Regions from separate parts of the Homo sapiens genome. Here regions 1 and 2 are each linked to region 3. The links come from fine-mapping of genetic effects on gene expression. A gene starts in region 3. Each other region holds a variant in brackets. All regions are shown on one strand. Distances are from middle to middle. Region 1 overlaps LOC105374264 (a long non-coding RNA gene). Region 2 overlaps LINC01991 (long intergenic non-protein coding RNA 1991). Region 3 holds the start of BCL6 (BCL6 transcription repressor).

Evidence for each region.
Region 1: its variant is fine-mapped to the expression of BCL6 in whole blood (TOPMed, PIP above 0.99).
Region 2: its variant is fine-mapped to the expression of BCL6 in whole blood (TOPMed, PIP above 0.99).

The regions. Positions count from the first base shown.
Region 1 is chr3:187,849,365-187,852,126 of GRCh38, forward strand. The region is part of intron 2 of LOC105374264 (a long non-coding RNA gene); the gene reads right to left. Among named protein-coding and RNA genes, the nearest start is that of BCL6, 110 kb to the left of the region's middle. The variant C/A (reference allele first, on the strand shown) is at 1,007.
Region 2 is chr3:187,962,582-187,965,343 of GRCh38, forward strand. All of the region lies in intron 2 of LINC01991 (long intergenic non-protein coding RNA 1991), which reads right to left. Among named protein-coding and RNA genes, the nearest start is that of LINC01991, 12 kb to the right of the region's middle. The variant C/T (reference allele first, on the strand shown) is at 1,343.
Region 3 is chr3:187,743,811-187,746,572 of GRCh38, forward strand. BCL6 (BCL6 transcription repressor) reads right to left here and starts at 1,658. Exons shown (of 10, transcript NM_001706.5): 1 at 1,600-1,658. BCL6-AS1 (BCL6 antisense RNA 1) reads left to right here. Exons shown (of 2, transcript NR_173091.1): 1 at 1-234; 2 at 1,434-2,216. RefSeq lists an enhancer at 771-1,296.

The DNA.
Region 1 (2,762 bases), 110 kb after region 3:
TTCAGTCACTGGCTCAATATAACATTGCTGATAACAGGCAGAGGCAAGGTTCAAACCAGGGGTGTCTGAAGCCAGTCAAAACCGGGACTCTGAAGCCAAAGCCCTTTGTGTAACCACTCTACAGTTCCACTTCACTTGGATGGCTGAGCTGTGGGTGGGAGAGTCTCTGGGTCCCCGGAGTCAGTCATCTGAGTGTGTGCTCTTCCTGGGAAGAGGCTGATGCTGAAAGCTACCTTATTTAATGGCTGAGAAAAGTAGAACTGATGGTTGAGGAGAGGAGACCTGAGAGTGTGTCCCCAGCAGGAAGACAACTGGAGGAAGTGTTGCTGCCGCCACTGCCTTATAGATTTACTCTCATCTCCTGTGCCCCAGAATCTCCAGTGGTGCCCTGATGCCATCAGGGCAGGCCATATTCCAGGCATCTTGTTAAGGACACCCTTGATTTTGCCCCTATCAACATATTCAGCCATATCTCTTCATTCCCACCTACCCCAGCATAGCCCCAATTTTAGTATCAATGAACTCCACATTCTCAGAAAGCAATATGCTCTTTCATCCTTCCTGCCTTTGAATATGCTCTTCCTCTGCCTAGAATGACCTCTTTGCTCCTCTTGTCTGGAGAAACCTCACTCATCCTTAAAGTTATAATTCAAATGTCACCTCCTTTGTCACTTGTTCCTAGAGTCCTCCAGGGAGTTGGTCACTTCCTTCTCTGAGATCTCTAGAACTTTGTTCGGACCTCAGTTAGAGACTTGTCATCCCAGCAAAACTATGATATTTGCCCATATGGCCACTTTCTCACTAGACAGTAAGCTCCTCCCGGACAGACAGGGGCTATTTCATATTGCTCTCTGCTTCCTCTCAGCCCCATCCTATGTTCCAAGCACAATCCCTAAAACATAGCAGGCTCTTAATAACTGTGGAATGTTGAGCGAATAAACAAATAAAAGCCAAGAGAAGATGACCTTGAGGCTTGGTTTCCTGGGAGGAGACTCCGCCTTTCGTA[C/A]CCACAGACTCCTTTGAGCAATATCCCATCCATGGCATTGAGCCACCATCTGGGGCCATTGCACCAGTAGAAGCTCAGGGTGGGGCTGGTGTGAAAACAAACAGGCAAGACAACAACAAGGGTGTGTTGAAACCTTTAAACGTTCTATTCCTTGGTGTTCAAACTTGCCAAGCATACTAGGTCAGGTGGGTTCTTATTCCAGTACTCTGAGAGAATTGATCATAGGCACTAAGCTTTCACATTGGGTCAAGGAGCAAGGGAGAAACAAAGGAGATGTGAAATTGGCTTCCTTGTTCTGCTTTTCTCTTTGTGTGTGTATTTGTCTTTCCAAACAGAAGAAACCCTGACCTTCCCCTGCTTTAATTACCTAATTATTTTGACACCTTGGGCTGTTGCATCACCCCCACACAGTGTTTTGTCAAGGACACCACATTGGGTGTATCTAGGCTTAGGGAGAAGCAATTGACAAGAAACAAGTTCTGACAGCCAGGGAAATGTTGGGCAGAGGAAGAGATCTAGGGGAAGGAGGAGAGGGGTGGGGGAAGGAAGAAAGAGGAAACGTTTGGTATGCTGGGAAATGAGTATCTTGGGGAAGGTGGCAGCAAGGTTGGCAAAATTGGGTGTCTCTGCTTGGAAGGTTTCCCAGATTGGGTTTCAGGGAAGATTGTGTCCAAGCCAGAAAACTAGTGTGCTATAGGTCCCTAAAAAGGATGAAATACAGGAACTCAGGCTGTCATTCCAGGGACTACATCTAACTGAGAAAATTTCTTCACCCTGGACCTCGGTTTCCTCTCCTTAGAAACAAGGCAAGGCTTAGTATTTTTCTCCCAAGCACAAAAATGTTTTTACTCAAATAGTTTGGAGATATACACGGAAGAAATAATCAAAACAGTCATAAAGTCCTTCACAAACCATATTCTTCAAACAGTTAACGCTGAGGATTCTGAAAACTAACATGGGCAAGCTGAATATTTGTCAAAATTGTGAAACACGGCCCCAGCAAAGCACAGAAAGCTCTTCAATTCTAACCTCCAAGTATTGTGTATGGAGGAACCAAAAAAGCAGATGATACAGAGAAGCTGAAAGCCCGAAGGTCTGGAAACCTAAGGACAAAGCAGTGTGGTTCAGTGGTATGGTCCTGGGCTGAGACTCAGGAGACCTGGGTTTTAGACCAACTCAGCATTTACAACTTTACATCTGCCAGTCTAGATCTGTCATCTGCACAATAAAAGAATGAATCTCTGTGGGGTTCACACTCTTCAGGGTAGGAGTGAGGGGTTGTGCAGCAAGGTACCGAAGGCCACAGTTAAGTATGATGAATCTTCCTAGAACATCAATTTTACCTGGTGGCAAACACTTTAAGGCATTATTTTTCATTCAAAAATGAATTCACTTCCTCAACCAATAAGTATTGAGCAATGCTCTATGCCAGATGCTCTTTTAATATGAAAGTAAACATGGATATTTTATTATGGTTAATATCAATAATTTATATGAACTAAGGCAGACAAGGGTCTCTCAAATTATTTTTCATATGCAGTGATACTTCTTGTTGTGCCCATTTACTCTCACTTCCAATCAAATCATACTTTGTCCTCTTTTGGCCCTGGATACACTCCAATGGATAGGAGTGCAAGTGGTCTCACTATCCCTTCCAGCAGACAGAGCTTATACTGTCAGGGCCACATGAAATTAAGCAAATCTTTGTTGTGACAACAGGCTGAATTTTTATATCTACCAGACAAAAGTAAGGAAA
Region 2 (2,762 bases), 220 kb after region 3:
GAACATCAGAATTTGATGTTGCAAGAGAGAAGCATAGGAAAGGAGATGGGATACAGAGGACAAATGGAAGGGTTGGCCTTAGAAACTATGCCACTTCCTCCACTATAATAAGAGGGAGGTAGTGTATGTGGGCACAGATGCAGGTGGGTTAAGGAAAAATGCAATAACTCTCCTCTGATAGCAAAAAGGAAGGTCATAATCCCAGGGCATGGGATGTGTAGAGCATAGTGGATATTCAAGTAGGGAGCTAAAGGTTTGAAAGAGTTGACCCAGAAACCAAAAAGTGAATTTGCTAAATGTATCATAGGATCCTCTGGCACGGTCCGTTTCAGGTTTGTGATCACAAATTTAAAGTGAACTGATCAGCATGGTTTACAATGTTCTTAACAACATTCCACTGTTTGGATGCAAGCAAAGGAGGAATTAGAGGATATACATTTCACCAGGATTGCAGTTTTGCCAGGTACGATAAAGGGGAAGGCAGCAGAGGAATGGGGGGTATTGGAAGGAGAGAGTTTATGGCACAGAGTAGAAGGAGTCAAGGTTGGAATAAGGTTTAAGGCTACCCAGTAACACAACATCACTGGGCTCCACACATATCCAAAGTGTCTGCCTGGACCCATCGGTATGCCAAGAATTTTCCTTCCCTCCAAAAAGGAAGCTCACTACTGACTTCACCTGGTGCCCGCCACATCTAGAATCCCCCTTCAGGGTTTTGCAGCCAATTAGGAACTGAGTGCTGGGCACCAAACTGGGTAGAAGAGTCACTCCTGAGCGCACACACACTTGCAGTGGAGTCTCAACACTTTATTTAGACCTAAAAGGCTGTGTGGCTGGCAGGAAAATACCCTACACATGCAGAGAGAAGACCTGGGTTTCATCAGTTTCTGTGGCTTTTACCAAATGAGAAAGTTTTTTTCATATCCTGAGCCTCTGTTCCCTCTCATCATAACTCTGGCCTGGCTTAAATTATAGCTGCTTATACAGATCTGATGAGATGGTGAATGTACAACCATTTTCAAGTGTAAAGAATTATGGAGATGTGAGAAATTACATTGTTATTATGACTCGGCAAGGGGGTACCAAATGCAAATCTAAGGCATTTACTGGTGTGAGATTGATTTCAAATGTCAGCTAATATAGGTCACCATGGCTTATAAGCAATTTGCCTTAAAATTAGAAACTTATGAAATGCTCAAGATGAAAGGCAGTACATTTCAAAACAGAGGCAATGGGAAGCAAATTTCTCTCTTTTTTGTGCAACATCCTATGAACCCACGGTTCTCACAGGCCCAGGATATTGCTGCAGTTGGCAGCCTGGTGTATTTTGAACAGCACAGTG[C/T]TGATCCCTGGGTAACTCTGTAATCCTGAGTGAGTCACTTTACCTTTGGAGGCCTCAATCGCCTTCTCTGTAAGGTGGGAAGAATTGTACTCCCTCCTGTTCCACTTACAGGGTATCAAGAAGATCATATTATTTTTAAAGGAAAAAAAGAACTGAGAAATACTCTTGGTTACTCTGCAAAGAGGTTGGTGTAAATGTGAAGTGTCACTATTATTAAGTGTGAGGCAATCTTTCCCACCCGCATCATGTCCCAGCATTACAATGTGAGCTGTGTGACAGGCTATTTTTAAATTCCCATCTCTGGAAGCATATGGTCCTGCACAGTGCCAAAAAGAGAAAAATGACCTGCTTCAGTTTGTTTGCTTGTTTGTTTTGATCTGATGGAACATTTTCTATGATCCTGTTAAAGGTTGTTCTTTCTACTTTAAACTTTTAAGGTGAGTGCTAAAGATTTTCTATAGCATAGTCTGAAACACACCGTGGCACTACAACTTGCTTAGACAATGATAAGAGGTCATCCCAGGGCGATGGTGTATTTATACAAATCTGCATTTTTTGTGTATCATCTAAGACTTTTCAAAAATATAGTTTTTTTATTTGTTAACAATTTTTATGCTTTTGTTCTCTAATTTTGGGTAGTTTTGTTTGTTCAGTAGCAGCATTTTTAGGTAAATTTTTTTTTGCAAATAGTAGTGCATTTATTTTATAAAATAAAGCGATTCCTTTTCTTTAATTTTCTTTAATGTTACCTACATAAAAAGAAGTTGTTTCAAAGTTATCCTGATTGTTTATTGTCATTTCTTTTATGTTTTATTAATATCAATTGCTATTGACTGAAGCCCTTTCCCATGACAAATATACAGTATATCTGTTATAAACTTCATTTTTGCTGCCCCCTTGACCTGACCTAACTTTACCTCCTCTCTTGTGCTATTTGGCAAGACTATCCTGAATCTTGTCAAACTTCCCACTCATTGAATTTGATTTCTGACACCAAATTCCTGGAAAGATATCTATCTGATCAGTTGGAAAAGAAAAGAGATAAAAACACCTATTTCACAAGTTTCACGGGACCTGACCTTTGCGCAAGAGCAAAAAATTTCCCCAGTTGAGGTAAATAAGGTTCCCACAAGCTTTTTTTCCTTTTTTCTTTTTCTTTAAGGTCCAGGATTCAACTCTCTTGTCTTTGGGTCAAGTGATAGCTAAAACTAGAATTGATGAAGTTTCATGGCATTTAACCAATGAAAAAGGTAATTTAAAAGGAGGGTGCTAAGGAAAACTCAGAAAGAAAGACAGGGCCTGCATCTTCAGCTAAATGATGAAATCAAGAACACGTAAGAGGAGTTTGAAGTGTTCTGTGTGATCCTGGGGGCCAATAAGAAAGCCAATTGAGGAAATTCACAAAAGCGCAAAATTAAAA
Region 3 (2,762 bases):
CGCCGCGCCTTCCCCCATTCTTACTCCCTCGAGGAGAGCCACAGGTTGCAAATCCAACCAACCTCGCAATCTATTTTTGCAAAATCACTCACAAAGATCTCCCTTTCGCGCCCGCGCCCGCTCCTCCCGCGCCGGGTCCCCTCAGCCACGGCCACAAAGTGCCCTTCTCTCCTCCTGAGTCTTGCACATAAGGAACGCGGGCTGGGGCTCTGTTCGTCTTTCTCCTCGCCCAAGGTAAGGACCTCGGGAATCTGAAGCCTGGCGTCCACTACGCTCAGGCCCGCAGTTCCCTTTTTACAGAGCTTGCACCATGGGAAAAAATAAAATAAAATTTAGGAAAGGGAGGCAACAGCCATTGGGAGCCAACACAGAGTCACGCAGCGCCCAAAATACAAACACCGCAGCGGCCAGAAATCCCGCCACCTTTCTCGTTCTCCCAGGCTGTCCTGTCGAGGTTCCCTGAGTCCCCCCGCACACTGAAAGGCATCGCAGGTGCAGTGCGCACCCCTTTCCCACCCACCCCAAGAAGCCCTGTCCCGCCATCAGTCTCTCTCCTCGGGATGAGCAGGGAGAGCGCGCGGAGGTTCCCGACTCCCTCGACTACAACCAAGAAAGAATAATTTTCAAAGTGTTCAACATCCCCGCCCCCAAGCTCCCCAAAACACAGGGGCAGGGAACACCAAAACACTCGGCTCTCATTAGGAAGATCACGGCTCTGAAAGGAAATAGTAGACACGATACTTCATCTCATCTGGATTTATGACCAAAAAAACAAAAACAAAAACCCAAAGAGTTCGCTTGCATTTTTTCCTTCCAAATCTCGGTTCGGCTCGAAGGCAGGGAATCTAAAAGACCGAGGCCGATGGAAGAGAGCCAGCGGGGCGAGCGAGCGGGCAGCCTCCCTTTTTGCCTCCCGGAGTTACCCAGAAGGACAGGGGAAGGGAAGGAAGAAGAGGCGAGGAAAAAGAGGAGGGAGGGAAGCGGAGGCCAGGAGCGACGGAGCAAGGAAAGCAGTTTGCAAGCGAGAAAAGAGGGAAAAAACACAGCCGCACGAATCCAGAGAGATCACAAGCCGTACGCAAGCAGCAGCAGAAAGAGCGAGAGCGCGAGCGCGCGTCCTCTCCGCGGTCTGGGGCCAGACAGCCCCCAGACTAGCCCGAATCACCCCCCAAGCACTGTCTCGTCCTCTCTGCTCCGGCCGCCCCCTAATTCCCCTCCTTCCTCTCCTCCACCTCCTTTCCAAAAACCAAAACAACACAAGGGAGGGTGGCAAAAGCCTCCCCAAACCGGCCGATTCACTCAAAGACAACAATAATAATAATAAATACATAACAATCTATATCCTATGGTGGGAGAGACGTGGGACTAATCTTCGGCATTTATTTTAACACCTGACAGCTAGAATAAATAAATATATACATTTATATCAATAGATACACATAGAAAACTTGGAGCCAAAGCATTTGGCAAGAGCGGAAAAAAAAAGAATTAAAAGGTAAAATAATGATCATGAGCAGCGGCGGCGGCAGCGGCACCAGCGGCAACAGCGGCGGCGGCGGCAGTAGCAGCAGCAGCGGCGGCAGCAACAGCAATAATCACCTGGTGTCCGGCCTTTCCTAGAAACTTCTTGCATCACCACTTCTAAGAACCCCAGTTCTAAGAATCAACAGAGCTCAATTCTCGGAATTTGAGCTTCGGACTTTACCACTGCTACGTGGCAGGGGAGGACTTGGTGTCAGCTCTCCGAGATTTTTACTGCCCCTGGCCAACCAAAAGCCCTCAAAGCCACAAGATTTTTTCACTGGCCGGCATATTTCGAGGTCCTCATAAGCAGAGCGTCTCGGATTTGGAGGTTCCGGTTCGAGGCTCGAGGGGCCTGAAGGTGGCTCTCCCTCCCCGGGCCCAAGACGATGGTATGGCCTGCTCCGCCACCATCACGTGGGCTCCTCCTCTGTGACGTCGGCGCCTTCGCTGTAGCAAAGCTCGGCCTCTGGAATTCTGAGAACTAATTTGCTATTCGGTGACATAAGAGGGGGAGTGCGCTTTGCTTTCCCGGGGTCTGGGGCTAATTCCTTCTTTCTTACCCATAAACTCAGCAGATCGAGCTAAATGCACAAAAGGGAGCGAGAGGTTTGAACCACTGGGAAAAGTATGTTATATATATAGTAGGGTTAGAGAGGCGAGTAAGAGAAAAATAAAATAAAATAAACATCACAGCTCTTTCCAACTAGAATATTAGGCACCACGAGAAAAATATTTGCCAAGCAGTTTTCGGTGGGTTCATTTGCTTTATTTTTATTTAGGACAGGGGTTTTTGCTGTTGTTCTGGGTTTTTTTCTTTCTGGTGTGGTGGCTTGGGATTTTTGGTTTCTGTATTTTGATGGTTTATGGATTTTTGCTTCTGATTTTTTGCCTTTTGCAAGTTTGTGGTGTTACGTAAATCACAGGATCGGCATCGGTTGGATTTTTTTGTACGTGCCTTTTCTTTCCCTATCTAATCCCTCAAGCGTTTTAAAGATGTATTATTTCAATACTAATACTATTGAAAGAAGCTTAAATTTTTGGCCATATGTAACAATCCCAGCCCCCACTTTTTTTTTTTTTTTTTCCTTTGGTGCAATTTTCTTTTTCCCCCTTGGACTTTTGCTGAAGTGTGTCTCTCCTGCACTTCAGAGAAATGTTCAAAGGATTTGTTTTGGTTTGGTTTGTTTCTTTCCAGGACAGCAAGTGGTGGGTTTAATCTGTTATTGTTGACTCTTGGG